Homo sapiens: one gene and its partners. The protein of the gene in region 1 interacts with the protein of each later gene in a pairwise test. Each region holds a gene or a part of one and is shown in the gene's direction. Other genes may lie near its edges. The genes, in order: SUMO1, EDARADD, FAM118B, FSBP, MBD1, HNRNPC and ZBTB26.

What was found.
Region 2: the proteins of SUMO1 (region 1) and EDARADD interact in binary tests that used the Homo sapiens proteins (3 or more experiments, as listed by UniProt).
Region 3: the proteins of SUMO1 (region 1) and FAM118B interact in binary tests that used the Homo sapiens proteins (3 or more experiments, as listed by UniProt).
Region 4: the proteins of SUMO1 (region 1) and FSBP interact in binary tests that used the Homo sapiens proteins (3 or more experiments, as listed by UniProt).
Region 5: the proteins of SUMO1 (region 1) and MBD1 interact in binary tests that used the Homo sapiens proteins (3 or more experiments, as listed by UniProt).
Region 6: the proteins of SUMO1 (region 1) and HNRNPC interact in binary tests that used the Homo sapiens proteins (3 or more experiments, as listed by UniProt).
Region 7: the proteins of SUMO1 (region 1) and ZBTB26 interact in binary tests that used the Homo sapiens proteins (3 or more experiments, as listed by UniProt).

Annotation. Positions count from the first base shown.
Region 1 is NC_000002.12:202,206,980-202,211,486, reverse strand, and holds part of SUMO1 (small ubiquitin-related modifier 1 isoform a precursor), read left to right. Parts: intron 1-680; coding exon 681-752; intron 753-3,484; coding exon of another isoform or gene 3,485-3,619; intron 3,620-4,165; coding exon 4,166-4,234; 3' UTR 4,235-4,507. UniProt on the Homo sapiens protein: Ubiquitin-like protein that can be covalently attached to proteins as a monomer or a lysine-linked polymer.
Region 2 is NC_000001.11:236,407,298-236,411,804, forward strand, and holds part of EDARADD (ectodysplasin-A receptor-associated adapter protein), read left to right. Parts: intron 1-1,918; coding exon 1,919-1,977; intron 1,978-4,507. UniProt on the Homo sapiens protein: Adapter protein that interacts with EDAR DEATH domain and couples the receptor to EDA signaling pathway during morphogenesis of ectodermal organs. Mediates the activation of NF-kappa-B.
Region 3 is NC_000011.10:126,238,581-126,243,087, forward strand, and holds part of FAM118B (protein FAM118B), read left to right. Parts: intron 1-2,211; coding exon 2,212-2,464; intron 2,465-4,507. UniProt on the Homo sapiens protein: May play a role in Cajal bodies formation.
Region 4 is NC_000008.11:94,426,705-94,431,076, reverse strand, and holds the end of FSBP (fibrinogen silencer-binding protein), read left to right. Parts: 3' UTR 1-3,361; downstream 3,362-4,372. UniProt on the Homo sapiens protein: Transcriptional repressor that down-regulates the expression of the fibrinogen gamma chain. Represses transcription of GSK3B gene promoter via its interaction with APBA1.
Region 5 is NC_000018.10:50,271,524-50,276,030, reverse strand, and holds part of MBD1 (methyl-CpG-binding domain protein 1), read left to right. Parts: intron 1-49; coding exon 50-196; intron 197-302; coding exon 303-431; intron 432-586; coding exon of another isoform or gene 587-661; intron 662-785; coding exon 786-902; intron 903-985; coding exon 986-1,054; intron 1,055-1,677; coding exon 1,678-1,845; intron 1,846-2,167; coding exon 2,168-2,467; intron 2,468-2,559; coding exon 2,560-2,697; intron 2,698-3,075; coding exon 3,076-3,207; intron 3,208-3,292; coding exon 3,293-3,354; intron 3,355-4,490; coding exon 4,491-4,507. UniProt on the Homo sapiens protein: Transcriptional repressor that binds CpG islands in promoters where the DNA is methylated at position 5 of cytosine within CpG dinucleotides. Binding is abolished by the presence of 7-mG that is produced by DNA damage by methylmethanesulfonate (MMS).
Region 6 is NC_000014.9:21,234,662-21,239,168, reverse strand, and holds part of HNRNPC (heterogeneous nuclear ribonucleoproteins C1/C2), read left to right. Parts: intron 1-2,708; exon of another isoform or gene 2,709-2,796; intron 2,797-4,507. UniProt on the Homo sapiens protein: Binds pre-mRNA and nucleates the assembly of 40S hnRNP particles. Interacts with poly-U tracts in the 3'-UTR or 5'-UTR of mRNA and modulates the stability and the level of translation of bound mRNA molecules. Single HNRNPC tetramers bind 230-240 nucleotides.
Region 7 is NC_000009.12:122,924,481-122,928,987, reverse strand, and holds part of ZBTB26 (zinc finger and BTB domain-containing protein 26), read left to right. Parts: intron 1-4,507. UniProt on the Homo sapiens protein: May be involved in transcriptional regulation.

The DNA of each region.
Region 1 (4,507 bases):
CATTTGCGCTTTACCAGATTTTATGATAATGTTGGCCAGGCTGGTCTCAAACTCCTGACCTCAAGTGAGCCGTCTCCCCTTTCAGCTATTTTTGTTGAAGAGTGATTAGAAAAATGTATACTAATATATTTTGTAATATTGCGCTATCTATGCCATCCAGGTTTATGGTAGATTAGCTAGCTAGCCATTTGTGCTTTACCAAATTTTATGATGTAATCTGTTTAAAACCAATTTCGCCAGTATAGTTGGAAGCTAGTGAGGGTGCACGTCCAGTTTCTGATCTGATCTTTTATTCTAGCTTACAGATTTAGGGCAAAGTGAATCGAGTAGTGGTCAAGAGCATAGGCTTAGAAACAGGTTTGGGCTTAAATTCTTGGCTAGCTCCAAGCCTTAGGTTCCCTAGCTGTAACATGAAGATAAGGTGGTAATACCTACCTTCCAGGGTTGTTGTGTTTAACACTTATGATTATGTATGTAAAGAATTGGTACAGGGAGGGCCTTGCAAATAGTTGCTACTCAGTACAGTATATAGTATTTATGATTGAATTAGCTTGTCTAATTTTATTTTCTATGTAGTGTTCTAAGGCTTTCATGCTTGCTTTTTGTGCATCAAAGTTACCATTATGTTTTCTAATATTTGTGTGTGTATGTATGCATTATTATTATCTTTACCTTTTTAGGGTGTTCCAATGAATTCACTCAGGTTTCTCTTTGAGGGTCAGAGAATTGCTGATAATCATACTCCAAAAGAAGTGAGTATACTTTTCTCCTGAGTCAAGAAAAAATTTAAATTCTCCTTTGAGCAGTTTGGTTCACTGGTGTTAAAACTGCCCTTTTCTTGAATATTCTCTGATTTAAATGGCATATCATTTGTTGGAGAGAAGAAATAATGTTTTGGGTTGAACTTCCCCTATAGTGCCTTTAAAAGTGCCAATAAAAAGGGTGGTAGAAACAAAATGAGTACTGAAATTGTCATAGGTCACATGCTACATCCTTTTTGAAGATAGACAAATGTTCCTCAAATTTGGTAAATTTCTGGTATACTTTCATGGTGATGGTAACATTAATGGCTGGATTTTCATTTTTGACCTATTTTGAGAATGTTAATACAGAAGCATAGTGTATATTAATATATTTGGCTCTGTCATCTTGTTTTACCCTATTTTTTTATGCTTCTCTGTCTTCATTTGATTTTTTTATTCTATGAGCAGTTTGCTTTGCTTTTATATTCCACCCATCTTCCCTCTATAGAGATATCTCAAAGTAGTGTGTGTGTGTGTGTATGTGTGTGTGTATCTATATACATAGATTCCCTTCATACACAGAGTAACATTACTGATATTTCTGATAGTGGGAACAATATAGGGTTATTAACTTTTTATTTTGAAAATATTTCAAACTTACTGAATTGTGAGAATAGTGTAATACTCTCCTGTATAACTATTCCTTAGATTCACCAATTAAAATTGCACAGCATGTGGGCCAGGCACGGTGGCTCATACTTGTAATCCTAGCACTTTGGGAGGCCAAAGTGGGTGGATTGCTTGAGTCCTGGAGTTCAAGACCAGCCTGGGCAACATGACGAAAACCCGTCTCTACTAAAAATAAAAAAATTTGGCCAGGTGCAGTGGCTTATGCCTGTAATCCCAGCACTTTGGGAGGCCGAGGTGGGCGGATCACGAGGTCAGGAGTTCGAGACCAGCCTGGCCAGTATGGTGAAACCCCGTCTCTACTAAAAATACAAAAATTAGCCGGGCGTGGTGGCATGTGCCTGTAGTCCCAGCTACTCGGGAGTCTGAGGCAGAAGAATCGCTTGAACCCGGGAGGCAGAGGTTGCAGTGAGCCGAGATTACGCCACTGCACTCCAGCCTGGGCAACAGAGCGAGACTCTGTCTCAAAAAAAAAGAAAAAAAGAATTAACTAGGCTTAGTGGTGCATGTTTGTAGTCCCAGCTACTTGGGGGGCTGAGGTGGAAGGATCACTTGAGCCCAGGAGGTCGAGGCTGCAGTGAGCCCTGGTCATGTCACTGTGCTCCAGCCTAGGTGACAGAGTGAGAACCTGTCTCAAAAATAAAGTAAATAAAATAAAATAACATTGTGCAGCATTTGATAGCTGGGATTGGTGGTGCACGCCTATAGTCCTAGCTGCTTGGGAGGCTGAAGCGGGAGGATCACTTGAGTGAGCCCAAAAGTTCGAGACGAGCCTGGATAACAGAGCGAGGAGTCCCCTGTCTCAAAAAAAAAAAAATATTATGTTTTTCTAGTATGACTACTAGAATGCAGTCATAGCTCACTGCAGCCACAAATGCCTGGGCTCTAGCAATCCTATCACTATCAGCCTCCTGAATAGCTGGGATTACAGGCATGTGCCACCATGCTCTGCTTTTAAATTTTTTGTAGAGATGGAGTCTCCCTATGTGCCCAGGCTTTGATCACTTAGTTTAAGTGTTGTCTCTTTTTTTTTTTTTTTTTTTTTACTTTGTAGTTAACTGTTTTTCCTGTTACAATTAAGTAATTTGAGGGGACACACTTTGAAACTATGCGAATATCCCCTTTCTCATCAAATATTCCCCTTAGGTTTAGTGTCCACCACCTTCTTGAACACTTCCTTACTTTCTGGCACAGTAAGAAGTTCCAAACTCATCTTTTACTTTCCTTTAACTTGGCATAATCTCTGGGACCATACAGTAGATATCTAATACATTTTACTGACACATGCCTTACACATTCCTTGTAATTAAGAGATTATTTTTTCAGAGGAATGTTGGTGCAGTGGGAGACAGTAGGTCTTTAGGGAGTGACCCTCCTGTGCTGTTGTTCACTTGTCTCTGTTAATGTACTTCTTGAAGTTTGTAGCTTTATATTCTTTATAGCTCAAGGACTCATGCTGTCTTCCTGTTTTGAAGGTTTCTAATAACACTTGGAATTTTATTCCTTGCAGTATTTACCATGCTATATGGGCAATTAAAATTGTTTTAAAAGCATCTTTTTTTTTTTTTTTTTGAGATGGAGTTTTGCTCTTGTTGCCCAGGCTGGAGTGCAATGGCACAATCTTGGCTCACCGCAACCTCTGCCTCCCGGGTTCAAGCGATTCTCCTGCCTCAGCCTCCTGAGTAGCTGGGATTACAGGCATGCACCACCACGCCTGGCTAATTTTGTATTTTTAGTAGAGACGGGGTTTCACCATGTTGGTCAGGCTGGTCTCGAACTCCCGACCTCAGGTGATCTGCCGCCCCCCCAGCCTCCTAAAGTGCTGAGATTACAGGTGTGACCCACTGCACCTGGCCTAAAAGCATGTTTAATAATTATTTAAATATTCAAATATGTTCCACAACCAAGATAGCTTAACACTACTAGAGCCATTCTGATCACTTTAAAATCCTAAATTCACATGTGTTATGTTTAGATTTCTTAACATACTTTATTTTCATATTTAAAATTCTGCACAAAAATGTTACCTATAAAATTTAAAACTTTTTGGTCAGGCACAGTGGCCCACGCCTGCAATCCTAGCACTTTGGGAGGCTGAGGCGGGCTGGATCACTGCAGGTCAGGAGTTGAGACCAGCCTGGGCAACATGGCGAAACCTCATCTCTACTAAAAATAGAAAAAGTAGCCAGGTATGGTAGCGCACGCTTGTAGTGCTAGCTACTTGGGAGGCTGAGCTGGGAGGATTGGTTGAGCCCAGGATGCTGAGGTTGCAGTGAGCTGAGGTTGAGCCCAGGAGGCTGAGGTTGCAGTGAGCTGAGATTGTGCCACTGTACTCCAGCCTGGGCAATATAATGAGACCCTGTCTCAAAAAACAAAAACAAACAAACACCAAATTAGATATATCCTATTAAACTATCACTTAAACTATTAAATACATGTTTCATTAGATTTAAAAGTTCTTTAACATGGCTGTCAAAAACACTTCAGTTTTATATAGCGAATAAACTGGGAAGTGAAATTGACTCAGGAAAGTAAGATGCATAACTAAATAGACAGAATCAGAAGGAAAGACACCTCTATATTCTTTAGATTAAAGAACACAGGATTCTTAATATTAGAGGAGTGTAAGTATGGGTCACATTTGGATCTCTTTGCACTTTTAAATTAGTGGCCACGTAATTGTAGTCAATTTAAAAACTGCTTTTATAGTCTAACATTTTTCTTTCCTCTTACAGCTGGGAATGGAGGAAGAAGATGTGATTGAAGTTTATCAGGAACAAACGGGGGGTCATTCAACAGTTTAGATATTCTTTTTATTTTTTTTCTTTTCCCTCAATCCTTTTTTATTTTTAAAAATAGTTCTTTTGTAATGTGGTGTTCAAAACGGAATTGAAAACTGGCACCCCATCTCTTTGAAACATCTGGTAATTTGAATTCTAGTGCTCATTATTCATTATTGTTTGTTTTCATTGTGCTGATTTTTGGTGATCAAGCCTCAGTCCCCTTCATATTACCCTCTCCTTTTTAAAAATTACGTGTGCACAGAGAGGTCACCTTTTTCAGGACATTGCATTTTC
Region 2 (4,507 bases), on another chromosome or scaffold:
CTTGCCACCTTCATGCTCTGCAGATGTCTGTATCCTGCTCCATGGGAGGCAATGGCAAAGGCTCTCTCCATTCGTCCCCATTTCTCTTCAGTGACTGGAGGCTGCATAAAACAAAGAGATGTTGCCTTCTCGAAACTTCTTTGGGCATTATCAACACCTGCAGGGCAAAGAAACTGTGGAAAGTTCAGACACATTCTCAGCTGGGAAACACCTAGGAAGAACACACACAAATTATTATCTTGACAAATTGTCCTGCTGTGCTTATTTGGATCCCCAAAGGCATTCCCAGGACCTAATTCCTAGTCTGCAATATGTACTTAATGAGGATTTGGATCAAAAGTGAATGCTGACTCTTGGCGGACCCACGACTGCCACTTAGGGTACTGCAGGTCGTTCACTGCACAAATCTGGAGGATCCCACGCAAAAAGATTTGATTATTTACTGAGACAGCTCTCTGGCAGATGTCTTATAAAGCATTTTGGAGATGGGAAACTTTTCTAATTTGTACTAATTAGGTCCTGACTGAGGTCTGTGCCTTTTTCCGTATTTCCCCTTTAAATTCCTTCAATGCATCAAGTGATAAAGTATCAGAAACAAAATATTGAGAAATCAAGATTATTTTTGATAAAAAACTATGGTTTTTTCTTTATTAGTCCACATAAACAACATTCAGAAGATTAAGAAAAATGAGTTGCAGCAAAATAGGAAATCAGGAAAGAAGTAGATTCAGAATGGAGTCATTCCTGCCGAAGGTAGTGTCAAATTCAGTAGGCAAGAGAGTCATTAATGTGATGCCTGCATAGTTTGTGGTTGTTTGTAACTCTGGGTATTTGAAGATATTTATAGGTAACCTGTTCCAAAATATGGTGGGGTTTTTTATGTAGTTACTTTTTATATTTTTAATTAATTAATTTATTTTTTTGAGATGGAGTTTTGCTCTGTCACCCAGGCTGGAGGGCAGTGGTGTGATCTCAGCTCACTGCAACCTCCACCTCCCAGGTTCAAGCTATTCTTCTGCCTCAGCCTCCTGAGTAGCTGGGACTACAGGTGTGCACCACTATGCGAGGCTAATTTTTGTATTTTTAGTAGAGATGGGGTTTCCCTATGTTGGACCAGGCTGATCTTGAACTCCTGACCTCAGGTGATCTGCCCGGCTTGGCCTCCCAAAGTGCTGGGATTACAGGCGTGAGCCACTGCGTCTGGCCTATAGTTTCTTTTTATTAATCTATTTCTTGATGCAATCTGAATCTGTTCCTCTTTATTTTGTCTCAACTAATAATTGGAAGTAAGACTTTCAGGCCAGGTGCGGTGTCTCATGCCTGTAATCCCAGTGCTTTGGGAGGCTGAGGTGGGAGGATCGCTTGAGGCCGGAAGCTCAAGGTTGTAGTGAGCTATGATTGTGCCACTGAGTGTACTCCAGCCTGGGCTACAGAGCAAACCCTATTTCTTTTTTCTTTCTTTCTTTCTTTTTTTGAGATGGAGTCTCACTCTGTCTCCCAGGCTGGAGTGCAGTGGCACTGTGTTGGCTCACTGCAACCTCCGACTCCTGGGCTCAAGCGATTCTCCTCCCTCAGCCTCCTGGGTAGCTGGGATTACAGGCGCCCACCTAATTTTTATTTTTATTTTATTTTATTTTTTAGTAGAGACAGGGTTTTACCATGTTGACCAGGCTGGTCTCGAACTCCTGACCTCAAGTGATCCACCCGCCTTGGCCTTCCAAAGTGCTGGGATTACAGCATGAGCTACCTCACCCAGCCAATCCTATTTCTTAAAAAAAAAAAAAAAAAAAGGAGTAAGGTTTTCTTCAGCCTAAGTAAAATTACTTGCCTCTGTATAGAGACAGTTATCAAAGGACTCATTTGTGGTTTTAAATTAAAGCAAACCCGCTCTATTTGTTTGTTTTTGTTCTTTTTACAGATCATATGGTAAAGGAACCAGTGGAAGACACAGACCCTAGCACTTTATCCTTTAATATGGTAGGTGACAAATTTTACACTAATGGTGATAATTATTGTTTTGCTTTTTTTCTTTGTTATTTCTTTACGTTTTTATTACTCAGTATTTACATGTGCATCAGAAACCCCAAAGTAAGATTTTTCTAAGATAACTGCTTTATCTTGGTATTCTACGTGATAATAATAAACTTTGGGTTTCTCCAGGCTAAAAATGGCGTTAGATTCTTTTCTTCTTTTGCTCATGTTGGAGGTGATATTACATTATGTGAGGGCTTTACCCACTTCCCTGGTTTTTTTTTATTTCATTTTTCATTTTTATTTTTTTTTAGACGGAGTCTTGCTCTCTCACCCAGGCTGGAGTGCAGTGGCGCGATCTCAGCTCACTGCAATCTCTGCCTCCCAGGTTCAAGCGATTCTCCTGCCTCAGCCTCCCAAGTAGCTGGGACCACAGGCATGTGCCACCATGCCTGGCTAATTTTTTTTTTTTTTTGGTAGAGTGGGGGTTTCACCATGTTGGCCAGGCTGGTCTTGAACTCCTAACCTCAGGTGATCTGCCACCCTCGGCCTCCCAAAGTGCTGGGATTACAGATGTGAGCCACCGTACCTGGCCTACTTGCCTGTTTTTAATACTACTGGTCTGGTAATGGAGCAGCCTGGGATGCCAGATGGACACACGCTATTGGATTTACCTCAGTTACAGCGTTTAGTTCTAGCAGCTGCCTTCTGAGCCACATCCTCTCCCCACCCTCCCGTAACCATTCTGAGGCTATTGCTTTAAGGGTATCCAAAGATTTCACATATATTGGTTTTTTAAAATTCATTTTATGGTTTTATTATTATTATCATTTTAATTTCAGATTCCATGGGTACGTATGCAGCTTTGTTACGTGGATGCATAGCATAATGGTTAGGTTTGGGCTTCTCATAAATCCATCACCCACATAGTGAACGCTGTACCTAATAGGTAATTTTTCAACCCTGAGCCCTCCTCCCACCCTCCCCCCTTTTGGAGTCCCTAGTGTCTGTTATTTCCATCTTTATGTCCATGGGTACCCATTCTTTAGCTCCCACTTATAAGTGAGAACATGCAGTATTTGATTTTCTGTTTCTGAGTTATTTCACTTGGGATGATGGCTTCCAGCTGCATCCATGTGGCTGCAAAGGAGAGAATTGTGTTCTTTTTTATGGCTGCCATCATTATTTTTCAACCTCCCAAGATCCTCCCAACCATCCCTTGAGATGGTGGGGCACGTACCCCCATCCTACAGATGCAGAAAGGACAGTTAATGGAAGTGTGCCGCCACCTAGACCGGAGCCCTGTGCTCCTGCCCAGCACTGCTTCTTGCTGAGGGCCAAAGCGGTGCTCTCTGTCAGGCAGCGTGTGTGATGGGCATATTGTGTAGGACACATTCCTTCTGTTCCAGATCCTCAGAGGATGGGATCTACCAACTCATGAAAAGTTTTGGTTAACTGATTTAGTTACAGCGACACAGAATACACTTCATGTAATTCAACTAAATGTCTTTAAATCTTAGGTGTCTTGCGGACCTGAGGTGTTTGTTTTCCTGTCCTTTAATTACCCCTGGCTTGGTAAATTGTAGACAGCGTAGGGGGTCAAGCTTTGATACCCACTGGAAATTCCTATGAAAAATTCTCAGTCTCTTCACTCTGATCAAAATGGAACGAAGAACAACCCTGTGGCCATGGCTTATATGTCTCTGGAGTAGCTTGTTACTAAAGCCTTTGGTTTCTATAAAGTGTTATTCAGTTTGCCTTCTTTCCCTTCCCACTGCCCCCACCTGTGACTCTCCAGTTCTCCCTGGTATCCTGCTTACTTCCTGATACCAGGTTTTCTTTCCCTCCCTTGGAGCTATGTCCTTATGCTCACCTTGGGGCTCAGCTACCTCTAATTACTTCTCCATGCTGGGGACAAAGTGATCTTTCCAAAGTGTCCCTCTTACTAGTTTCTTAGGGCTGTCGCAACAGAATACCACAGACTGGGCAGCTTTCACAATAGAAATGTATTTGCTCCTGGTTCTGGAGGCTGGAAGCTTGAAATCAAGGTGTCCTCAGGGCCATTCTCCCTCTGAGACCCATAGGGAAGAATCTTTCCTTGTCTCTTCTAGCTTGTAGTGGTTGCCAGCCATCGTGGAAACTCCTCAGCTTATAGAGGCATCACTCCGTTCTCTCACTCGTTAGCACATGACCATCTTCTCCCAGGGTGTTTGTGTCTCGTCTCTTCTTCTCCTTCTCCCTCTCCTTCTTCTTTCTTCTTCTTCTTCCTCTTCTTCTTCTTTTTTTTTTTTGAGATGGGGTTTCACTCTTGTCGCCCAGCTGGAGTGCAATATGCAATGGCGTGATCTCGGCTCACTGCAACCTCTGCCTCCCAGGTTCAAGTGATTCTCCTGCCTCAGCCTCCCAAGTAGCTGGGATTACAGGTGCCCACCAACGGGCCTGGCTAATTTTTTTGTATTTTTAGTAGAGACGGGGTTTCACCATGTTAGTCAGGCTGGTCTCGCACTCCTGATCTCAGGTGATCCGCCTGCCTTGG
Region 3 (4,507 bases), on another chromosome or scaffold:
ATACAGACTTTTACTTAATCCCCACCCTCAGCTGTGTGCAGTGTTCTCAGATATAGTCCTCTGGTCAACCTCTGCAGAAGGGAAACCTCTAGCCTGCTGAAAGTTGTAACTGTTAAAGGCTTGTAACTGATTCTCCTATTTTAGCCCCACCAGCCCCTCTACCTTTAGATGTACATGAACATTCCCAAAATTCTACCAAGGGAATCGGCCTTTGCATTACAATTGGTAAAATGTTGTTGCCCTTTGACCTCTGTTGTCTGCTGTCATCTTTACCTAGCCTACTTTTTAGGTATATATACCCGCTAAAAAAAAAAAGTAACTATTATTTGGTGGTTTACAAAGAACCAGTAATAAAACACAATTGTTAAATGTTTTATTTTTAAGTGGAAGTCTTTTTTTTTTTTTTTTTCGAGACAAGGTCTTGTTCTGTCACCCAGGCTGGAGTGCAGTGGCACAAACACAGCTCACTGCAACCTCAGCCTCCTGGGCTCACGTGATCCTCCCGTGAACTTAGCCTCCCAGGTAGCTGGGACTACAGACGTGCCTAATTTTCTTTTTCGTTCTTTCTTTGTTTGGCAGAGATGGGGTCTCACTAAGTTGCCTAGGCTTGTCTCAAACTCCTGGGCTCAAGCTCAGCCTCCTAAAGTGCTGAGATTACAGGCATGAACCACTGCACTTAGCCAAATTGGAAGTCTTAATTAGGAAGAATTATAGTTCAAATCTGTATGTTATATAAAAAAATACAGTACAACAGTATAAAATGAAAAGTAAAAAGTCCTTATTCTCTGCTATCCCCATTTAACCACTATTTATACATCTTGTGAATCCTAGAAATTTTCTATGTGTGTGTATATTTGTTTATGTGGATTTGTGTATGCTTCACTATCTTGATTGCTCTGAACTGAAACTCATTTTTCATCATTTGCTTCTAACATCTATTATTAATGTCTTTTCTAGTAGACTGATCTTTCAAGATCAGGGACTCCATTTTGTTCATGGATACATGACTCCCGTAGTGTCTGGTACATACAGGTTTTCCTTTCCTGCCTCAGCCTCCCTAGTAGCTGGGACTACAGGTGTGCGCCACCAGACCCAGCTAATTTTTGTATTTTTAGTAGACACAGAGTTTCACCATGTTGGCCAGGCTGGTCTTGAACTCCTGACCTCAAGTAATCAGCCCACCTTGGCCCCCCAAAGTGCTGGGATTACAGGCGTGAGCCACTGCTCCTGGCCTCGGTTTTTCATATTTGTTGAATGACTGAATGCAGAAGCTCGGGTTAGGGAAAGCAGTTTTAGAGGCTGTGTCCCCAAAACCAGGTTTCCCAAGGCTTGAAAGTGCTATTCCTTTCTTGAGTTATGCCAAAATGCTGATCCTCTCCATTTTATTATTTAGACAAAAAGGTTGGGGAGAAGCCATTTTCAGGGGAGGGGAACATGCCATCAGCAAAAATTAATGTGAAGGAACATATTTCAAGCAGGGATAGTCTCCAGAATGAAAGAGAGGGGAACAAAAACAAAAATTAGCACCCATGCTGTCTCACATATGGGCCTCAGAACAGAGAAGTCTGTCTCTGCTTATCATGGTAAGAAAGGAATGTTTTTCACTTTTTGTCATGTCCTTTGATTAGTTAATGTCTTTATTTAGGTATGTAGGGCCCCTGTGTTTTCAGAATTCTATTGGCCACTTTTTTTTTCTTTTTTTTTTTTGCCTGAGGTTAATGTTTACAAAATTCAGAATTAAATTTTGTATTGCCTTTCCCCTAGTGTTTTACATTTCTCAATAATAGGAACTTAATTTGTCCTGGGGTTCTTTTCTCTTTTTCTAGAGTACAAATCAAACGTCTTCTTTTGAAATTTAATACTGGTTTAAAATATAATTTAGTTGGCAGAAGTCAGCTGAGCTATAGTCTATTTGGATCTTTTCCTAATATTAGTGGAATTTCTTAGGTTGAGAGGACTAGGAAGGGAAAACTGATTTTAAGATTGGTTTTGGGATTCCTGAAATAGGTTTATGACTTGTTTTTCAGCAAGCACTGACACAATATTCTGGTTGTTTTCTTTAAACTGCTTTGGAAAGGTGTCAAAAACTGCTGTTCATCTTCTTTGCAACTATAAAAGTTAGCTAAAAACTGTAACCTGAGTCAGACAGTCTTTCTGTGTGCCTCATATCTATTGGATATTCCAATCCTCTCATTTGTTTTGCTTTTATAGGAAGCTGCTTCCAAGCTTAAAAACTAAGAAGCCTCGAGAACTTGTGCTAGTGATTGGAACAGGCATTAGTGCTGCAGTTGCGCCCCAAGTTCCAGCCCTCAAATCCTGGAAGGGGTTAATTCAGGCCTTACTGGATGCTGCCATTGATTTTGATCTTTTAGAAGATGAGGAGAGCAAAAAGTTTCAGAAATGTCTCCATGAAGACAAGAACCTGGTCCATGTTGCCCATGACCTTATCCAGAAACTCTCTCCTGTGAGTACCCTAGTATGTGCCACAGTATTTGGAATTTCCTAAAATTTAACTATCACAACTAGCATGATTTGGCTGTCAAAACTAGCATGCCAAATGTAACAGGGATATTCATTTACAGCTTGTAGGTTTCCATAACATTTGACTCTTCTGCGCAATGTCTGTTTATGGACCCTACTCAGGACAGTTGTCTTAACCCCATTTCACTGTGTGTCTATGAGAGAGAAATGATGTTGAGGACTTTATATGTACAAATTACCACTGTGTTTTGAATTTATTTTTTTCCTGCATCACTACTATAAAAGCTGTGTTCTGTGGCATCCATGCCTTGTATGGAATCCCACAAAGATTGGAGATAATTTTATCATTTTATACATGAAACAAAACCAGTTTTTAGTGTTCTTTTTAGAGGTAATAAGTCAAAATATTTAGAAGGAATTGCACCTTATTTTACCAAACTGAGTTGGATAAAAGGACTCCCTGTCTTGCTTTGTCTGAAAATTTATTTATTTATTTATTTATTTTTTGATGGAATCTTCTTCTTGTCACCCAGGCTGAAGTTCAGTGGTTCGATCTCGCCTCATGGCAGCCTCCGCCTCCTGGGTTCAAGCGATTCTCCTGTCTCAGCCTCCTGAGTAGGTGGGATTACAGGCATGTGCCACCATGCCCAGCTAATTTTTGTATTTTTAGTAGAGACAGGGTTTTGCCATGTTGGTCAAGCTGGTCTCGAACTTCTGACCTCAAGTGATCTGCCCACCTCAGCCTCACAAAGTGCTGGGATTATAGGCATGAGCCACTGCACCCAGCCTGTTTTAAAATCTTAAAAATCAGGCTTCTAGGGCCAGGCGTGGTGGGCACCTGTAATCCCAGCTGCTCAGGAGGCTGAGGCAGGAGAATGGCTTGAACCCGGGAGGTGGAGGTTGCACTGAGTTGCGGTCGCGCCACTGCACTCCAGCCTGGGCGACAGAGGAAGACTCCGTCTCAAAAAAAAAAAAAAAAAAAGGAATTAATGGGGTTTTAAAGAGTTCATGGAATCTCCATACACTTTATAAAAATTAAAAATGGATCAAAGACCTAAATATGATACCTAAAACTGTAAAACTCTTAGAAGAAAATACAGATTTAAAATTTCATGACTGGATCTGGCAGTGGTTTTTTAGACATGACACCAAAAATGCAAAAAACTAAAGTAAAAAAAAATATAGATAAACTGGACTTCTCCAAAGTTAAAAACTGTTAGGCTGAAAGGACACTGTCAAGAAAGTGAGCCGGGGATGGTGGCTCATGCCTATAATCCCAGAACTTTGGGAGGCCAAGGCAGGAGAACTGCTTGAGGGCATGAGTTCAAGACCAGCCTGGACAACATAGTGAGACCCTGTCTCTACCAAAAGAAAAAAAAAAGTGAAAAGACAGCTTCCAGAATGAGAAAATGTTAGCAAATCACATATCTCATAGGCGTATAATATCCAGAATCTATAAAGAACTACTGTAACTTAATAAAGGCTAATAATTCAATTTTAAAATAACGATGTAGTTGAATAGACATTTCTCCAAAGAAGATACACAAACGGCCAATAAGTGCATACGAAAAGATGTTCAGCGTCATTAGTCATTAGGAAAATACAAATCAAAACCACAACAAGGTGCCATTTCACACCCGCTGGCATGACTAGAATCAAGAAGACAATAATAAGTGTTATTAAGGATGTGGAGAAATTGGAACCTTTGTGGGAATGTAAAGTGATGCAGTTGCTTTGGAAAACAGATTGGCAGTTCCTCAAAAAGTTGAACAGTGATTCTATGAACCAGCAACTGCACTCATAAGTATATACCTAAGCGAATGGAAAGCATATTCATGCAGCAACTGTACACTCATGTTCATAGCAACGTTATTCATAATAGCCAAAATAGTGGAAACAACTCAAATGTCTAGTTCATGAATGGAGAAACAAAATGTCTGTCCATGCAATGTTAATTGGCCATTAAAAGGAATGAAGTGCTCGTCCCATACAACAACATGGATGAACCTTGAAAACATTAAGTAAA
Region 4 (4,372 bases), on another chromosome or scaffold:
GTTTTGTTGAGAAGGGATTTTTAAGCCAAGTTGTAGAATGGGGTGGGTGTAATTTCAGCAGTGAAGGGGACCATGGGTGTTTGAAGTCAAGAGTGAGACGCTGGAAAAAAGACAAAAGAATGGGAAAAAGTGGATTGAGTATATAAGCACAAATGCAGTGCTAAGCCATTGATTTTAAGTGAATGTAGAGAGAGTCAATTTGGGCTGTAGTATCCTGGACTAGGAAGGACATCTCCCTGGACTAGGTAGGGTAGCTGCTGTTTAGCTCCAGCAGAATTTTCACATGCGGGGATAAACCAGAAATCTGCATTTTTTAATGAGGAATCTTCCAATTTTAAAATGTTTGCAAATAACACAAAATGCTTTTAAAACATTATACAGACAACATGTGAGTGGGCCTCACTGAGCCATTGGGCTTCCACTTTGTGGCCTTTGGAGTAGACCAATGGTTTTCCAAGTATGGGTCCTGACCAGCAGCATCAGCATCACTTGAGAACTTGTTAGAAATGTAAATCCATTTCCAAGTGAATTAGAAACCCTGGGGGTGTCAGCAATCTCTTTTAATAAACCCTTTAGCGATTCTGATGCATGCTAAAGTTTGAGAACCAGTGAAACAGAGTATTTTGGAACCTCGCTTGGTGCCTAAATCATACTAGTCTCAAAATTTTTGTCGAAGAGTAGTTGAAAGTGAACTGAGGGATATAAATTTGGATGATGGTTGATACCAGATTATGAATTACATTAAATACTTTTTTTTTTTTTTTTTGAGATGGAGTCTTGCTTTGTCACCTAGGTTGGAGTGCAGTGGTGCGATGTTGGCTCACTGCAATCTCCGTTTCCTGGGTTCAAGCGATTCTCCTGCTTCAGCTTCCCAAGTAGCTGGGACTACAGGCGCACCACCATGCCTGGCTAATTTTTTGTGTTTTTAGTAGAGACGGGGTTTCACTGTGTTAGCCAGGATGGTCTTGATCTCCTGACCTCGTGATCTGCCCGCCTCGGCCTCCCAAAGTGCTGGGATTACAGGCTTGAGCCACCGTGCCCAGCCTAAATACTATTTTTAATGAGTCAGACTTAACGTACAATGAGAAGCCATTGAATGCTTTGAATTAGAGGGCTAATTTGATTATAGTTGTGATTTAGGAGGAGTGGCATTTAGGGACAGGCATTGTATTGGAAGAACTTAAATCAGAAATTTAAGTTATGGCTATAGAAATAGAAAAAAATGAACTCAAGGTACTATTTTAGCATGTTGACTACTTAATTTCATTGGTTGGATTAAAAAGAGGGTGTTTTATAGCTGGTAGAGTTAACTTCTTTAATTATAAAGATGTCCTGAATATATAACTTGATATATCCTTTTGACAATGTTACCTTTTCTCTTTAATCTGTGCTATGACTTTTCTTTGAGTCTAATGAATCTTGTAATTCTTAATTTGAGGTAATGTTTCCCAGTATAATTCTAGTAAACACATCTTGGCAGTAGTAAGCTTTATTTTTTGAAATTATTGAAAGCACATATATGAGATGTAATTCACTTTACAGTTTCAGCATGCTACTAAGAATTGATAATGAATGTTCAATTTAAATGTTGGCTTTTACAGCAAATCAGAGTTTTCCCAAGTGTGTTCTGTGGAACATTAATTCTGTGAGATGTTTCTAGAAAAGAGATCTGTGTTAAAAAAAAGTGCAGTATACATCTTTTTTATTTTTGGTGGTTAGGTTCTAAAATAATTGTGGAAGGTAAAAATTATGTATATACAAAATAGCCCTTGAAAATTCCTTTGCTGCCCATAAAATAGCATAAACATAGTCTGCTACAATCATATTTTTCTGCAGCATTGTTTAAGATTGCTTTTTCTTTAGTGTGTTAGGTGACACAATTCATTAGCATTTAGGGGCTGTATACAATAAGAAACCTATTTTTACATATTTTTAAACACCAGAATCACACTCTTTGAGTTTACTGCAGCAACTTTTCCAAGTCAATCTTGTTTTTCTCCAAGTCAGTCTTGTTTACTTTTAATTTGCAAAAGTTTAAATGCATATAATTCTCCTCATTGTCTACCTCCCCTTGTATAACCATGATTAACATAGTATAGTTTATGAGAATTCCTGTATAAAGAAAATTATTTATTTGACCATAGAATCCTTTTCCGAGGCTGTTTATTATCTTACAGAGTATCTTAGGGTAATTTGGAACCAAACCTTTTTTTTTCTTCTTTTTTGTATTGAGACTTTTTTGAGTTAGGGGACTACTTACCAACTAACATTAGCAGTTTTTGTTGAGGACAAGTTTCATTAAGGGGAATATATAGGGGAAAGTTTGCTAGTACAATGGAATGTACACTTGGCTTTCTATCTGCAGGTTTCACATCTGCAGATTGAACTACTGTGGATTGAAAATATTCAGGCAGAAAAATAAATAACAGTACAACAATAAAAAGTAATACGAAATTTAAAAAGACGGTATAACTGAGGTAGGAGTTGGGCTAATCCCCAGTTTTGGGGCTCACTTGTCCTGTATCCTAACAACTATTTACATAGTATTTACATTATATTAGCCATTGTAAGTAATCTAGAGATGATTTAAAGTATATGGAAGGATGTGTGTAAATTGTATGTGAATACAAACATTTTATATAAGGGACTTGAGTATCTGTGGATCTTGATGGGGTAGGGGGTGTCCTGAAACCAATCCCCCTTGGATACTGAGGGATGACTATACACTTAAGCCACCAGACATCTTGCATATCATAGACAATTGTTTGGGGTCCATGAGCTTTAATTACAAAATGTAATGCTGGGAGAACATAGAGAAGAGTGATTTTGTTTTTTAAATGTAGACTTGATTCTGTAGAAATATACTACATTTGATAAATATACTAAGTATATAGATTATTTCATCCAATATATTAGTAATTTAGATAGTGGATAGCCACTTTCCTATCTTTCTCTTATCCATATGAATGTAATGGATATGTTGTTACAACTTATGATTTTCTAAACTAGCTGTGATTTATAATGACATCCTGAGAAAAGTCAGTGAAACTCATTTCTAACGAATACCAGATTTCTTAAAATAGTCAAGTATTTTTCTTTTGTGTATGATGAGATATTAACTTGGTGTTATTTCATTTTTTTTTTTAAGGAGTCATTCTACCCTGTTCTATCTTTACTTATGTGAAAATGTTTAAACTATGAGTTTTTTTCATGTGCCTTCTTTTGGAGTAATGTCAACTTTTAAATACACATGTTTAAATAACTTAGAGTGTAATAAATTGTGTTTAATATATACTGTAGATAATGATGGTTAAATGCTTTGTTAACACATGTTCTTTTAAATACAAGATACTACTTTGTACTGATTTGTGTACTTTTTTTGTGTGCCGTTAAGACAAATAATTCAGTACTGTAGAGGTAAAATTTTTTGATGAGGTATAATTGAAATACATTTATTTAGATGATTATGTTATAATAGATGGCCAATGTACCATATCTAAATATCACATTTCATTTCTTTTTTCAAATGTTAAGAGCCACAGCTTCTCAAAATCAAATATTTGATGGTGAATTTGATTGTAAACACTTAAAAGTAATTAGATGAAATATGGTTGCATACTTAAACAAGAGTAAGTTCTTAGAATATGCAATCTAATTAAACATTAACAGTCAAGCAAAATCTTTGTATACGATTTTGAGAAATTGTTCAATATATTTTTATAAATCTTTTATATTGATTAAAGCTAGTAGTTATAATTTGAACATATTATTTATTTTTAGTTTCCAATTGCTTTGTAATAGTGGAAAGCAAAATAAATGAGTAAATAAAAATAAAAATAAAAATATCGCTCATATCAGTCCTGACAACTTAAACTAAAAGGATATATCATTATAATTCCACTTTGCTAGCAGGTCTTTTTTGTTTTAAAATTTATGTGTGAATTCACCTCTGTTACAAAGTTTTTTTTCCCCTAACATTAAGAAACCTTTCAAACATACAGAAAAAGTGAAAAGATAGTTATAGTAAGTATCCATATATCTACCACATAGATTCTGCAATTAATGTTTTGCTATACTTGGCTTCATCACCTATTTATCCATCAATTCTTTTTTTTAAAGGAAAAATGTTACTTCGAAACAAGTTGTAGAGTTAGAATAATTTACCCTTAAGTACTTCAGCATGAGTATTACTAGAGTTCACTATTTATTTGTGCATGTGTGTTTTTTAGGTAAGATTTGCATACAGTGAAATGCACAAATTTAAAATATACCATTTGGTGAGTTTTGATCTACAACTGTGTAGCTCAAACCTCTGTCAAGAATTAGAACAATATCACCTCAGAAAGTCCTCTCTTGCCTGCTTCTAATCAGT
Region 5 (4,507 bases), on another chromosome or scaffold:
CAGTGCTTCTGGAGCAGGCCCGTGATCTCGTCCCTACCATTCCTGGCAGCGTGTGGGCTGTGGGGAGTGTGCAGCCTGCCAGGTAACAGAAGACTGTGGGGCCTGCTCCACCTGCCTCCTGCAGCTGCCCCATGATGTGGCATCGGGGCTGTTCTGCAAGTGTGAACGGAGACGCTGCCTCCGGATTGTGGAAAGGGTGAGTTGGGCAAGTGGAAAGAGCCCAAGGCTCACCTCGGCCCCTGGCCCCCATGGGCTTGGCCCCATGCTTCATGCCTCTGCTCCCACCTGCCCCCCGCCAACAGAGCCGAGGGTGTGGAGTATGCCGGGGCTGTCAGACCCAAGAGGATTGTGGCCATTGCCCCATCTGCCTTCGCCCTCCCCGCCCTGGTCTCAGGCGCCAGTGGAAATGTGTCCAGCGACGTTGCCTACGGGTGAGTTGGGCTGGAGGGAGCAGAGCTCATTCTGCTGTTAAAATCGTCGCTGCCTCTGCTTCCTTTCAACCTGGCCTTGCCTACCTCATGTCTTTCTTTTCTGCCTAACCCTATGCTCGCCTTTCTGGCCCCGCCTACCTGCCTCTGTCTGCCAGCACCTTGCTCACCGCCTGCGTCGCCGTCATCAGAGATGTCAGCGACGCACTCCCCTGGCTGTGGCTCCCCCAACTGTGAGTGCCTCACGCCACCCTCTGTCTGCCTGTCCCATGCATGCTTTCTGCACTTAGGGTGTGGGGAGTTTCTGTGTCTGCCTGGTGCCACCAAGCTGAAACCACCCTTTCTGATCTTTCCCAGGGTAAACATGCCCGCCGCAAGGGAGGCTGTGACTCCAAGATGGCTGCCAGGCGGCGCCCCGGAGCCCAGCCACTGCCTCCACCACCCCCATCACAGTCCCCAGAGCCCACAGAGCCGGTGAGGCCCCAGTGGGTGGAGGGAAGGCACAACCCTGACCTTACCCAGTACCTGCCCTGACCCCACCCCATTTGCCTCTACAGCACCCCAGAGCCCTGGCCCCCTCGCCACCTGCCGAGTTCATCTATTACTGTGTAGACGAGGACGAGCTAGTGAGTGGCCCCACCCTACCTGGATAAGCCTAGAATCTCAGGACGCTTGGTTAACTTCAAAGAAGCAGATGCTGGAATGAGCCTATTGGGGAACAGCAAGGCACAATAATGGGTCCTAGGATGGGATGAGTAGATAATGGAGGACTAATACGGGGTCAGCAGGTGCATGAGAGTGCTTCATGTCACATATACCAACACTCTGGTAGCTGATGTGGGGATTGACAGAGGAGCAGCTAGCATAGTGACTGGGGTTCACCTAGGATGAGCGACAGAGTAGGCACAGTGATGGGAGCTAATAGAGAGTTATCAAAATGTTGCTGGAAATGGGGGTCAGAGACATTTTCTTGGTAGCTAGTGGTGGCCTAGGAAATACAGCAGTGGATACTGTAGTGGAGCAGCCACAGTCCTAATGGTATCGAGGGCCAGCTGGCACAGTGATAGTGGCCAATGTTGAACTAGCGAATGCTGAGGAGTGACTAGTGGGGAGTCAGGAGGCTGAGACTAGTATGCAAGTAGCTCCGTCTTATGGGGCTAGAGGAGCACCAGGACCAGCACTGGAATAGGCGTTGAGGATGGCCTCTCCTAGTCCTAGTTGACAGCACCACCCATTCCCCCCACCCCAGCAGCCCTACACGAACCGCCGGCAGAACCGCAAGTGCGGGGCCTGTGCAGCCTGCCTACGGCGGATGGACTGTGGCCGCTGCGACTTCTGCTGCGACAAGCCCAAATTCGGGGGCAGCAACCAGAAGCGCCAGAAGTGTCGTTGGCGCCAATGCCTGCAGTTTGCCATGGTGGGTGGGGCAGGAAGGGTCAGGTGGACGGGATAGGTTGGGCCAGGCGCCCCAGTGCCTGGAAGTGGTGGGCAGGCTTGGTAGGTGGGTGGGTGGGGCAGTAGCTTTGGTTGAGGATTAACAGACATTGTTCTTGGCTTAATGAGTCTAGGTGGCATTGGTGTTGCTAATAGGAGACTAGCAGGCTCAGTGATGAAGGGCTCATATGTAAGCAGATTCCGTGCTGGGACTGATGGGAGATTAGCAGGCATGTGGAGCCGGGCAGGGTGGATGTGATTGGTCAGGACACCAGGTAGCCATAGCACCCTATCTTTCCCCATAGAAGCGGCTGCTGCCCAGTGTCTGGTCAGAGTCTGAGGATGGGGCAGGATCGCCCCCACCTTACCGTCGTCGAAAGAGGCCCAGCTCTGCCCGACGGCACCATCTTGGCCCTACCTTGAAGCCCACCTTGGCTACACGCACAGCCCAACCAGACCATACCCAGGCTCCAACGAAGCAGGAAGCAGGTGGTGGCTTTGTGCTGCCCCCGCCTGGCACTGACCTTGTGTTTTTACGGGAAGGCGCAAGCAGTCCTGTGCAGGTGCCGGGCCCTGTTGCAGCTTCCACAGAAGCCCTGTTGCAGGTGAGGGCCCCACCCTGTCCTGCCTTCCCAGCCTCACCCAGCTGCATGCCAGGGAGCTGAGACCAAGTCTGCTGCAATCCTCCCTCACGCAGGAGGCCCAGTGCTCTGGCCTGAGTTGGGTTGTGGCCTTACCCCAGGTGAAGCAAGAGAAGGCGGATACCCAGGACGAGTGGACACCAGGCACAGCTGTCCTGACTTCTCCCGTATTGGTGCCTGGCTGCCCTAGCAAGGTGGGGGCAGTGATGGATGTTCTGTTGGTGCCGTAGCGGAGTGGTCTGTAAGCAGAGTGATGATGAGCCATGATGGTTCTCTTGAGCAGAGCAATAGATGTGCTGATTGCGACGTTTCTGCAGAATTACCCCGCCTGTCTAACAGACACCCTACCTCCCACAGGCAACTAGCTTTGCCCGCTTTGCTATCCAGCTAACAGAAAAACGGAGGTCAGTGAGGAATGGGAATGGGAAAGCTTTGTAGGCAGAGAGATGGACTTTCTGTGTTGAAATGTGATGGAAGTAGGATTTGTCAGCACAGTGAGGGGTTGGCTGATAGAGACTTTCCTCAGGTGAACTCTGCCCTTCTAATGGTTGCCTGTTTCCTACTTCTCCCAGGCAGTAGACCCAGGCCTGCCTTCTGTGAAGCAAGAGCCACCTGACCCAGAGGAGGACAAGGAGGAGAACAAGGATGATTCTGCCTCCAAATTGGCCCCAGAGGAAGAGGCAGGAGGGGCTGGCACACCCGTGGTCAGTGCTGGGGATGCCCCACCCTGCCCTGACCCTGCTGTAGCCCCAACAACCACATTGACCTATGGTGTTAATTCTTCTCTAGATCACGGAGATTTTCAGCCTGGGTGGAACCCGCTTCCGAGATACAGCAGTCTGGTTGCCAAGGTGTGCCCCACACAGTGAGGGGTGGGGAAGGAGTGGGTGTTGGCCAGATGTGGGCCCTGAGTTTTGAAAGTATAGCCGGCAGTTTGGCATGGTGTGGTGGGAGGTAAAGGCCCATACCCACTATGCTGGTCACAATTAATGAGGGGCGTGTGTGTAGGACCCTAGAGATTTCTCCTGAGATCCAGCCCAATAGCATTCCAGGTTAGGACTCTCCTTTGGGGGTAGGGGAAAGACTTGGTACTCTATCATGAGATTTGAAAGAAAAAGATAGGGAGTCTGGTCCCTATTTTCCTAAGGAATTTCTATAGGGGTCAGCTTTAATATATAAATTCTTATTCAGAGAATAATCATTTGGGTCTTGAAGGCCTTTAGAGTCTCCAGGAGACCTCTGGGTGGGCTGTTGCCTGACATTGAGCAATGTGTACCAGAGAAATGGTGCTGGGCTTGCCTGGGCAGTGGTATGGGCAGGAGATCTGGGTTCCGAGCTGGCTTTGTGAGCTGGGTTCACACGTAGTTGTGTGATCTCTGGTTGCCCTGCACTTCCTGGAGCGGCCTCTGTGGAAGGGCTTGGGCTGGATCTCTTGAGCCTTTCCTGAGCCTATTGAGGTTATTAACTTCAGATGCCTTGCAGAACTGTCCCTGTAGTCCTGGCATAGAACAAAGGGTAGATGCCTGTAAGGACTAGGGTGGTTGGGAGGACAGAGGAGTGCTGGCTCCTGCAGAATATTGACAGACCCTGCATAGAGCCCCAGACACTGGCGATGTAAACTATTGGCCTAAGCACTTGGATTCCTTTGCTCCTACAAACCAGCCCACCAGGCTAGAAACCCTTTCATCTATACTTGGCCAATTACAGAAGTATTGATTGAGTTCCTGTTGGGTGCACAGCATTGAGGACAATGAGCCCTGCAAAGCTTACCCTTCAGGAGACACAGGATACCTACCTTCAGGGAGCTTATAATCTGACTATGTACAAGCTGTCTATAATGGTAGTTTTTAGAAGATATAAAAAAAGATAAAGGATAATTAAGGGGAAGTGGATGGAGGACACAGAATAGTAGGAAATGGTTTTGTAATGCTCCATTGCGCACATAGCAAACCTCATTCAACATACAGACCTGCTCCCTTTTCCCTAGGTCCAAAGACCTTAAAA
Region 6 (4,507 bases), on another chromosome or scaffold:
AATAATGGAGGCTGGAATATTTGAACTGTATGTTTGTTTGTTTTTGAGACAGTGTCTCCTTCTGTTGCCTAGGCTGGAGTGCATTAGCACGATCTCGGCTCACTGCAACCTCCTCCCATGTTCAAGCGATTCTCCTGTCTCAGCCTCCCGAGTAGCTGGGACTACAGGTGCAGGCCACCACGCATGGCTGATTTTTGTATTTTTAGTAGAGATGGGGTTTCACCATGTTGGCCAGAGTGGCCTTGAACTCCTGACCTGATGTGAACTGCCTGCCTCAGTCTCCCAAAGAGCTGGGATTACAGGTGTGAGCCACTGCACCCAGCCCCAGATTTCTTAATGTTAAATCTAGTTCATGTAAATTAGTGCCATTTTATTATCTAACAGCATTATTCGACTATTACATACTAGTAAATGGTGATAGAGTAGGATCCCTGGGTTAGCTTGCATTAAAAAAAGAAAAATTCTAGACCCCTTCAACTAGAAGAGGGGAAATATGATGATGAGGGGCATTGACCTCAAAATATTTGAGTATATACAGGTGCATTAAGACTTGGACTATTATTACTAATGTGATTAACCTTTTAAAATTTCTACCAAATGGATTTTCTGTTTTAAGGAATATTTGTTTGGCTTAAATGAGTTTTTCCTACAGAAATCCCAAGCTTGTATGTACATTGTAGTGAATTTGGGAAATACAGAGAAACTGTGAAAATGATTGTAAAGATTAATCACAAGCAGAGTACCCACAGAACATTTTAAGATATTTTGATGTGTTTCTGTACTGTCCGTTCTTAAATGATTTTTATGTAGTTCATTTATGTCTCCTATGTATTGTACGTTTTCAGATACTATTTTTTTGACTCAAATTATAATTTGCACATCACTTGAAGTTGTATTTTTAAAAGACTATTATTGCTGGACATTTATTACTATTGGGTTGTTAGTTGTTAGAACTCGGTTATAAAAATTCATATAGAATATGACCAAGTAATTTAGATCTGTATGAGGCAAAAAGCAAAAGTAGACCTATTCATTCTACAAGTGGTTTTTACACCTTCCAGATGTAAAGGGAGTAACAAGGCAAGAAAATGGGATCAGGGCCGAGTGCAGTGGCTTTCACCTGTAATCCCAGCACTTTGGGAGGCCGAGGCAGGCGGATCACCTGAGGTCAGAAGTTCAAGATCACCCTGACCAACATGGAGAAACCTGGTCTTTGCTAAAAATACAAAATTAGCCGGGCCTGGTGGCGCATGCCTGTAATCCCAGCTACTGGGGAGGCTGAGGCAGGAGAATCACTTGGAACAGGGAGGCGTAGGTTGCAGTGAGCCAAGATTGCTCCATTGCACTCCATCCTTGGCAACGAGTGAAACTCCAACTCAAAAAAATTAAAAAAAAAATGTGATCAAGGAGTTTGTTTTACTTATCTAAACTATTGTACTACTATAAAAGGATGCTGGCAACCTGTTACATGAAAGAACTGAGGGACTGTTCTTAGGATTTCTAACAACAGTCTGCGTAACATGTTAAAAGTGGTGCTCGAGAAACCACACCATACTACCTAGAGAGAAATGGTATTGTTTAAGCATCAATAACACCACAAAAAGGTATTGCCACTTGTAGGACGAGGTAGTCTTGACAAAATATTGCAGATGAAGCTGAGTAAGCCTTGGTCCCAGCTGCTGCTTTCAAGAGTTACAGAAGAATATGTGGAATTGTTCTGAGAGTATCAATCCTGGAAAATACAGACTGGGAAACTACAAGTTAATACTGTGGATTCTTAAACAGATAAATTTTAACCTAATGCAATAGAAGCGGAACTTACCTACAAAAATGCTTCAAATGCATCACGTTTATTTTTCTGGGAAGACTAGAATGTCTATAGTTATACATTTAGGCATTAGAATTATTTTAAAAGTGAGAAAGTGCTAGTAAAGTCATAATGGTTGTTACCTTTTGGTGAGAGGAAGGGGGATTGGCAGTGGAATCAACCACATAGGGTTTGTTTACTTATGAGACTTTACAGGGATGCAACTGCTCTTGCACCTTCACACATTTTTATTGAAGTCCCTTGTGCTCACCCACTATTGGAGCAGGTGAAACTTCTAAGTTTTAACTGCTTTTCTAAAATTTCGTTCCTGTTGCTTTTCAATAAATAACTGCTGGTTATTTTGGTATTCTTGTATTTCTAAGTCTATTATTCTCCAAGTTGCTTACCTTTTATTTCTCCCACAGTCAGTGAAACCATATATGCTGGCTTGCCTTTACTGCCTTGCATTTTGGAATTTTGATTTAAATGCTGTCTGTAGGATAGTGATTTTGCCATCTTGAGTCTTATTTTGGGAGTCAGAGATTCAAAAACTACTCTGCTCTTGCTGACCCCTTCCAAGAATCCCAGTTCTTTTCCAGTAGTTTCTTTGTGTTACAGTATCGTCCTCCCTTTATGGAAATTTCACCTGTATGATACTTTAAAATTTTGAAGTAGAATGAAGTGTGACTTGACATCATTTGGTTATTTCTAAAACTTCAGGAAATGTACCTCTTCCATAAAATTTGAAGTAGCAATACCACTGGAATTTAAGGAAGCTCTCAGGACAGTCTTTGTTACTATTTGTGCCCTGGATTTTCCCTGAAATGTGGTACTCAGCACATGGTTAGTAAATATTTGATCCCCAAAATGAATGAATTTGTAGTGACTGTTCATTCCTTAGGAGGACACGTTACTAAGAGTGGAATTAATCCGTATTGTGAGTACGTCTGTCTTTACTGTTGCCTCCATCTTGAATTTAAGTCCTCATAGTAAGTATGGGTATTTTATTAATTTTAGGCAAACTTTGGAAGTTGGGATTTTTGTATTTTAAAAATAAGTAGTTGATGATTTTTGTAGCAAATTTAATAACCAGACCATAAAGAAAATGAGAAATCATATCCTTAAACTCATAACAACCATTGCTAGCATCCTTGTATGCCTGGATGCTTTTCTACTGAGTTTTTCCTTTGTGGATCTTTGAGAGAATTAAGGCCTGATACACATGAAAAATGCCGTGGGGTATGAATTCCTTGCATCTTGATTAGTACTAGCTATGTACTCAGACTTGTGAAAATAATACTAGCTATGTACTCAGACTTGTGAAAATTGAGAAAATGGTCATTTAAATCCATTTCTGTCTTATTCCAAAGGGTACCCCTTTCAATCACATCTGTATTTTTCTGCAAATGTCCATTTGGAACATTGGACTGTGGTTTGATGGGTTTTTTCCCTTATGGTCAGTATTCTGTGTTGGCTTACGGAGCCCCTCACCCCTGGTAATTTCTTCTCATTAAACCTATGGAGATTATATTTTCTATTGATAAACCTATTTGTGAAAAATAGTTGCTTAAAACCAGATTATACCTCCACTTGTAATAATGGGAAATCTTAATAACCAGCAGTAGTATCTGAAACCAGTTAGGCCTCAATGCAGATTTTTGTTTTAATTCCTCTTTTTAGTGTCCTCAGACTTTCTGGCATACTTAATAGCTGAAAGGCTGTTGGTGGATTTCAGTGGCTACTGTTTGTTAATTTTTATTGCTTAGTGTTAAAATATTAAGAAGTTTTTGTAAAGATATACTTTAGAAAGTAACAAAGACAGACTTTTGAATTTCAGAAAGATTTGGAAGGAAGTGAAGTTTTGTTTGAGCTTTTAAATCAGTACTGCCTGTTAAATGACTGTATTAAGCATCAGAATGATAGGAGTCATGTATATATGAAATGGTGTTAAACTACCTGTTTTTATGTACATATATGTATACATTAGACTTTTTTACATCATCCGTGAGAACTAGTTTGTCATGATTCACTTGAGGATTGGAAGGATAACAAATACTGGAATCTTTTGAGATTTATCAGTACCTTTCAAAGGGATGAAGGGGAAATCAATCTTAAGAATGTTTTTAAATCTTGTTCAAGATTGGGGGTTGGAGTGGGAAGAGGCAGGAAACAAAATGCTAAAAGAATGAAATAAAACATTTTCGCTTTACGGGACCTGAGATGGTATTGTGAATCTGCATATGGTTATGGTAGGATTGAGCCTCCATCACATACATAAAGACAGATAATTTTTGGTTTTAAATAATGCGTGGAAAGTTGTGTATTTTTCTTTAATTCCCCAATCTTTAATTTGATTCATGCCGTGTTCCACTGGCTAGTTTTATCATCATCACCATCCGATATTATTAAATGTCCTATATTTTAGGTTATATAAAAAGTAGCCTTCGAGTCATTGCAGTCTGTAAAAAGATGGTATTGATACTTATGTATCTAAAGCATACTGCAGATTAATTGAAGTATCTGGAAATAGGTGTTTCCAGTGTAAATGAATTGATTCTATTTATTGCCTTTTGAAGAAAATTATACTTAATGGGTAAGTGTAAGCTATCCATATTAATCTAGCTAATGAATGGCTTGGGACAGAATTTGACGTTTGCTATGCTGTGTGTATATATACAGAACCGGTGAAACTCAATAAAA
Region 7 (4,507 bases), on another chromosome or scaffold:
TGGAAATGTCTCTCAAATCTGTTTCCCCTCTCCATCCATATTATTGTTGTCTCTCTTCAGGCCCATGCCATTCTGTCTTGATCTGTTTAGAGTAATCACATACTAAAATGCTTCCTTGTACTTTTCTCCAAGCCATTCTCCATAAGAAATTTTTTTGGCTTATTGAAGTTTAGACAGTGCATGAGTGCAGGCATCATGCATTTCAAGTGATAGGGAAATAGCCTAGAACAGGTATTTTTGAGTACCTTGAATTGAGATTTAGTTTGGTTAAGTTTGGCCATGGGGATTGGGATTTAGGGATTGTTAACATAGGGAGGTAATAAAACATTGAGAAACAGAAGACAGGCTTTTTGAAAAAAATAGCAAAAAATTGGAGACTTAGCTTTGAAAGAGATACTTACCCTTATACAATTTAGTGAAGCCTCAAAGAACAGACCAGCAAAACAATGGTGGAAAACAGTTCAATAGTTAAGTAATTTGCCCACTTCCACATAACAGTTCAAAAAAAAGAACTAGGCCGGGCGTGGTGTCTCACGCCTGTAATCCCAGCACTTTGGGAGGTGGGAGGCTGAGGCATGAGAATCACTTGAACCTGGGAGGCTGAGGTTGCGGTGAGCCGAGATCACACCACTGCACTCCAGCCTGGGCAACAGAGCGAGACTTGGTCTCAAAAAATGAAAAAAAATCAAAAGAAGAATTAAATCTATATTCATCAACATAAATTGCTTTCAAAAACAATGAGTGAAAAAAGTAAGTTGCAAAACAATATGTATAGTTTATGTATAAGAAACTTAATTACGTTATACTTTTGTGGCTAGACATATAGAAGTATTGTTTTTAAAATGCCAGGAGGGGCCGGGCACAGCGGTTCATGCCTATAATCCCAGCACATTGGGAGGCCGAGGCGGATGGATCACTTGAGGTCAGGAGTTCAAGAACAGCCTGGCCAACATGGTGAAACCCCATCTCTACTAAAAATGCAAAAATTATCCGGGCTTGGTGGTGCATGCCTGTAATCCTAGCTACTCAGGAGGCTGAGGCAGGAGAATTGCTTGAACTCGGAGGTGGAGGTTGCAGTGAGCCAAGATTGCACCACTGCACTCAAGCCTGGGCAACAGAGCAAGACTCCGTTTCAAAAAATAATAAATAAATATATAAATAAATAAACAAAATGCAAGGAGGGAGAGTCAGGAAGGATCAAACTTAAACTGAATACTGAGTGGTAGGCAGTTGAGAAGGGGAATTACATCTAAAATCTTCAAAAATTTTTCAAGAAGAATACATTCTGTATATATTACTTAAAAGTTGAAACAAAAGCTTGATAACTTGGAGAGTATCGTGTCATGAAAGTTACCTAAAAGAAGAACAAGATTAAGGTTTATAGAGAGAAAGGCTGTAGTATAATACAGCCTCTTTAGAAAAAGAACATACCATGTCAATGAGGGACAAAGATTTCCAAGTAGTTTTGAGTGGTAAGTTGAAAGATAAGGGCACTTTTATGAGACAGGTGAGGAAGCAAACTGATACCTAGCTTAAGAATTTATTATACAGATAGAAAAATTTTACTTGCCAGTAGTTATTAGAAGCATTTGAGAAAAGAAACTATTTTCTCACTGCCTGTAGTATAGCAATTTACATTGTCCCACCTGGAATATTCAGTAATTAGTCATTTTTTACTATCCTCATTTGAACAAAGGGAAAATTTCAAATTAGTTATAATTGTGGAAGGATTGTATAAATATAAATGAAGAGGAAGTGAGAATATTCCCATTACATTGATGTTTGAGAAATATCATTCAAAACTTGCTAATAGAAACTCAACAGTATTCAGATTTAATCTCAGTAACTGAGGCAATAGATAATAAAGACCTGAACTATGGCAATGATGTAAGAATGGAGGAGTGAGGAGTTGGTGATCATTCTGAGGAAAGAATCAACAAAATATGATGACTGTGTCTCTGATCTACCTGATCAGTTCTTTACTTTCCTTCAGTTACAAGAAGCTTGACTATAACCTAGAATTATCTGAGTGATTTTTATGATTATTTTGAGTAATTACTGCTATACTTAGAAGTTACCTACAGTTGGGGATTGTGAAATCAAATATATTCATAATTTTTATTGTCTGCTTTATTTGCAAATGGCATTAAGTTTCAGTCCACAAAGATAAATACACAAAAGATGGAAAATAATATAAAGTAAAATAGATGAGAAAGGTATAATAAGGATAAAGGCATAATATGCAATCAGGAATATGACTAATACATATATGCTTGCCATTTAAGTCTTCTAATTTCATGCAAATTTGGCTTGAAGTTATAACTTGTTTTTAAACATAAACCTTTTTTTGAAGCATAACAAAAACAAAAATATACAAGTCATAAGTGTGCAGCTCAATGAATTTTCTTGGCCTGTGTTTGTGATACTGAATGTAAGGAAGGAAATCTGAAGAGTTACACAATTTTTTTTTTTTTTTTTTTTGAGACGGAGTCTCGCTCTGTCGCCCAGGCTGGAGTGCAGTGGCACAATCTCAGCTCACTGCAAGCTCCACCTCCCGGGTTCACGCCATTCTCCTGCCTCAGCCTCCCGAGTAGCTAGGACTACAGGTGCCCGCCACCACTCCTGGCTAATTTTTTTTTTTGTAGTTTTAGTAGACACGGGGTTTCACCGTGGTCTCGATCTCCTGACCTCATGATCTGCCCACCTCGGCCTCCCAAAGTGCTGGGATTACAGGTGTGAGCCACCGCACCTAGCCGAGTTACACAATTATTATCCTTGAGATAAAACTGTACCAGCCAGGTGCAGTGGCTCACACCTGTAATCCCAACACTTTGGGAGGCTGAGGCAGACAGATTACCTGAGGTCAGGAGTTCAAGACCAGCCTGGCCAACATGGTGAAACTCCATCTCTACTAAAAATCCAAAAATTAGGCCTGGCGCAGTGGCTCATGCCTGTAATCCCACCACTTTGGGAGGCCGAAGCAGGTGAATCACCCGGGTCGGGAGTTCGAGACCAGCCTGACCAACATGAAGAAACCCCGTCTCTACTAAAAATACAAAATTAGCCAGGCGTGGTGGCGCCTGCCTGTAATCCCAGCTACTGGGGAGGCTGAGGCAGGAGAATCACTTGAATCCGGGAGGTGGAGGTTGCGGCAAGCCCATTGCACTTCAGCCTGGGTGACAAGAGTGAAACTCTGTCTCCAAAAAAAAAAAAAAAAAAAAATTAGCTGGGCATGGTGGCAGGCACCTGTAATCCCAGCTACTCAGGAGGCTGAGGCAGGAGAATCACTTGAACCCAGGAGGCAGAGGTTGCAGCAAGCCGAGATCACGCCATTGCACTCCAGCCTGGGCAACAAGAGTGAAACTACATCTCAAAACAAGAAAAAAAAAATTGTACCTAGATTAGTTGTTTCATACCTGGATTTTGGCATCATGCAGTGTAAACCACCAGTTCCAGATCTAACACTTAACACTTTCAACCTCCGTTGGGGTTTACAAGTTATTTATGTTTTCTAAGCTTAGTTTCGTCATATACAAAATGTGGGATAATGGTAATACTTACCTGTAGAAATTTTCACGATTAAATGGGTCAATTTATTTATTTATTTATTTATTTATTGTGATAGGATCTGGCTCTTTCACCCAGACGAGTGCAGTGGCATGATCATGGCTCACTGCAACGTCTGCCTCGTGGGCTCAAGCCATCCTCCCATTCAGCCTCCCAAGAAGCTGGGACTACAGGCGCATGACACCACGCCCAGCTAATTTTTGTATTTTTTGTAGAGACGGGGTTTCACCGTGTTGGCCAGGCTGATCTCAAAGTCCTGAGCTCAAGCAGTGTGCCCACTTCAGCCTCCCAAAGTGCTGGAATACAGGCATGAGCCACTGTGCTCGGCCTAAATGGGTCAATTTAGGTATAACATCTATACCTGAAATGTAGCAAGGAAGATTAGGTATCATTTCTCTTATTTTTAAATAAAATTAAGATGGTTCATAAGAAACTTTTTTTAACTATCAAAAAAAATTTTTTTTAAGTGTTTAAAACAGGTTCATGCCTGTAATCCTAGCACTTTGGGAGGCCTTGTGGGAAGACTGCTTGAACCCAGGAGTTTTAGGTTACAGCGAGATTTGATTGCGCCACTACACTCCAGCCTAGGCAACACAGCGAGACCCTGCCTCTACAAAAAATAAAAACATTAGCTAGGTGTGGTGGTGTGCACCTGTAGTCCTGGCTACTCAGGAGGCTGAGGCAGGACGATTGTTTGAGCCTTGGTGCCAAGGCAGCAGTGAGCTATGATTACGCCACTGCATTCTAGCCTGGGTGACAGATGACAGAGTGAGACCTTGTCTCAAAAAAAAAAAAAAAAAAGAAAGTTGAAATTTGGTTTTATATTGCCAAAACTATTTTGGTAACAAACCCTAGAAAGAAAGCTTTCCCTAGGCACTCAAAAGAAGATATCATAATGAAGAGCATCTGTACCATAGCCTAGTAATAATTTCATGGGGGA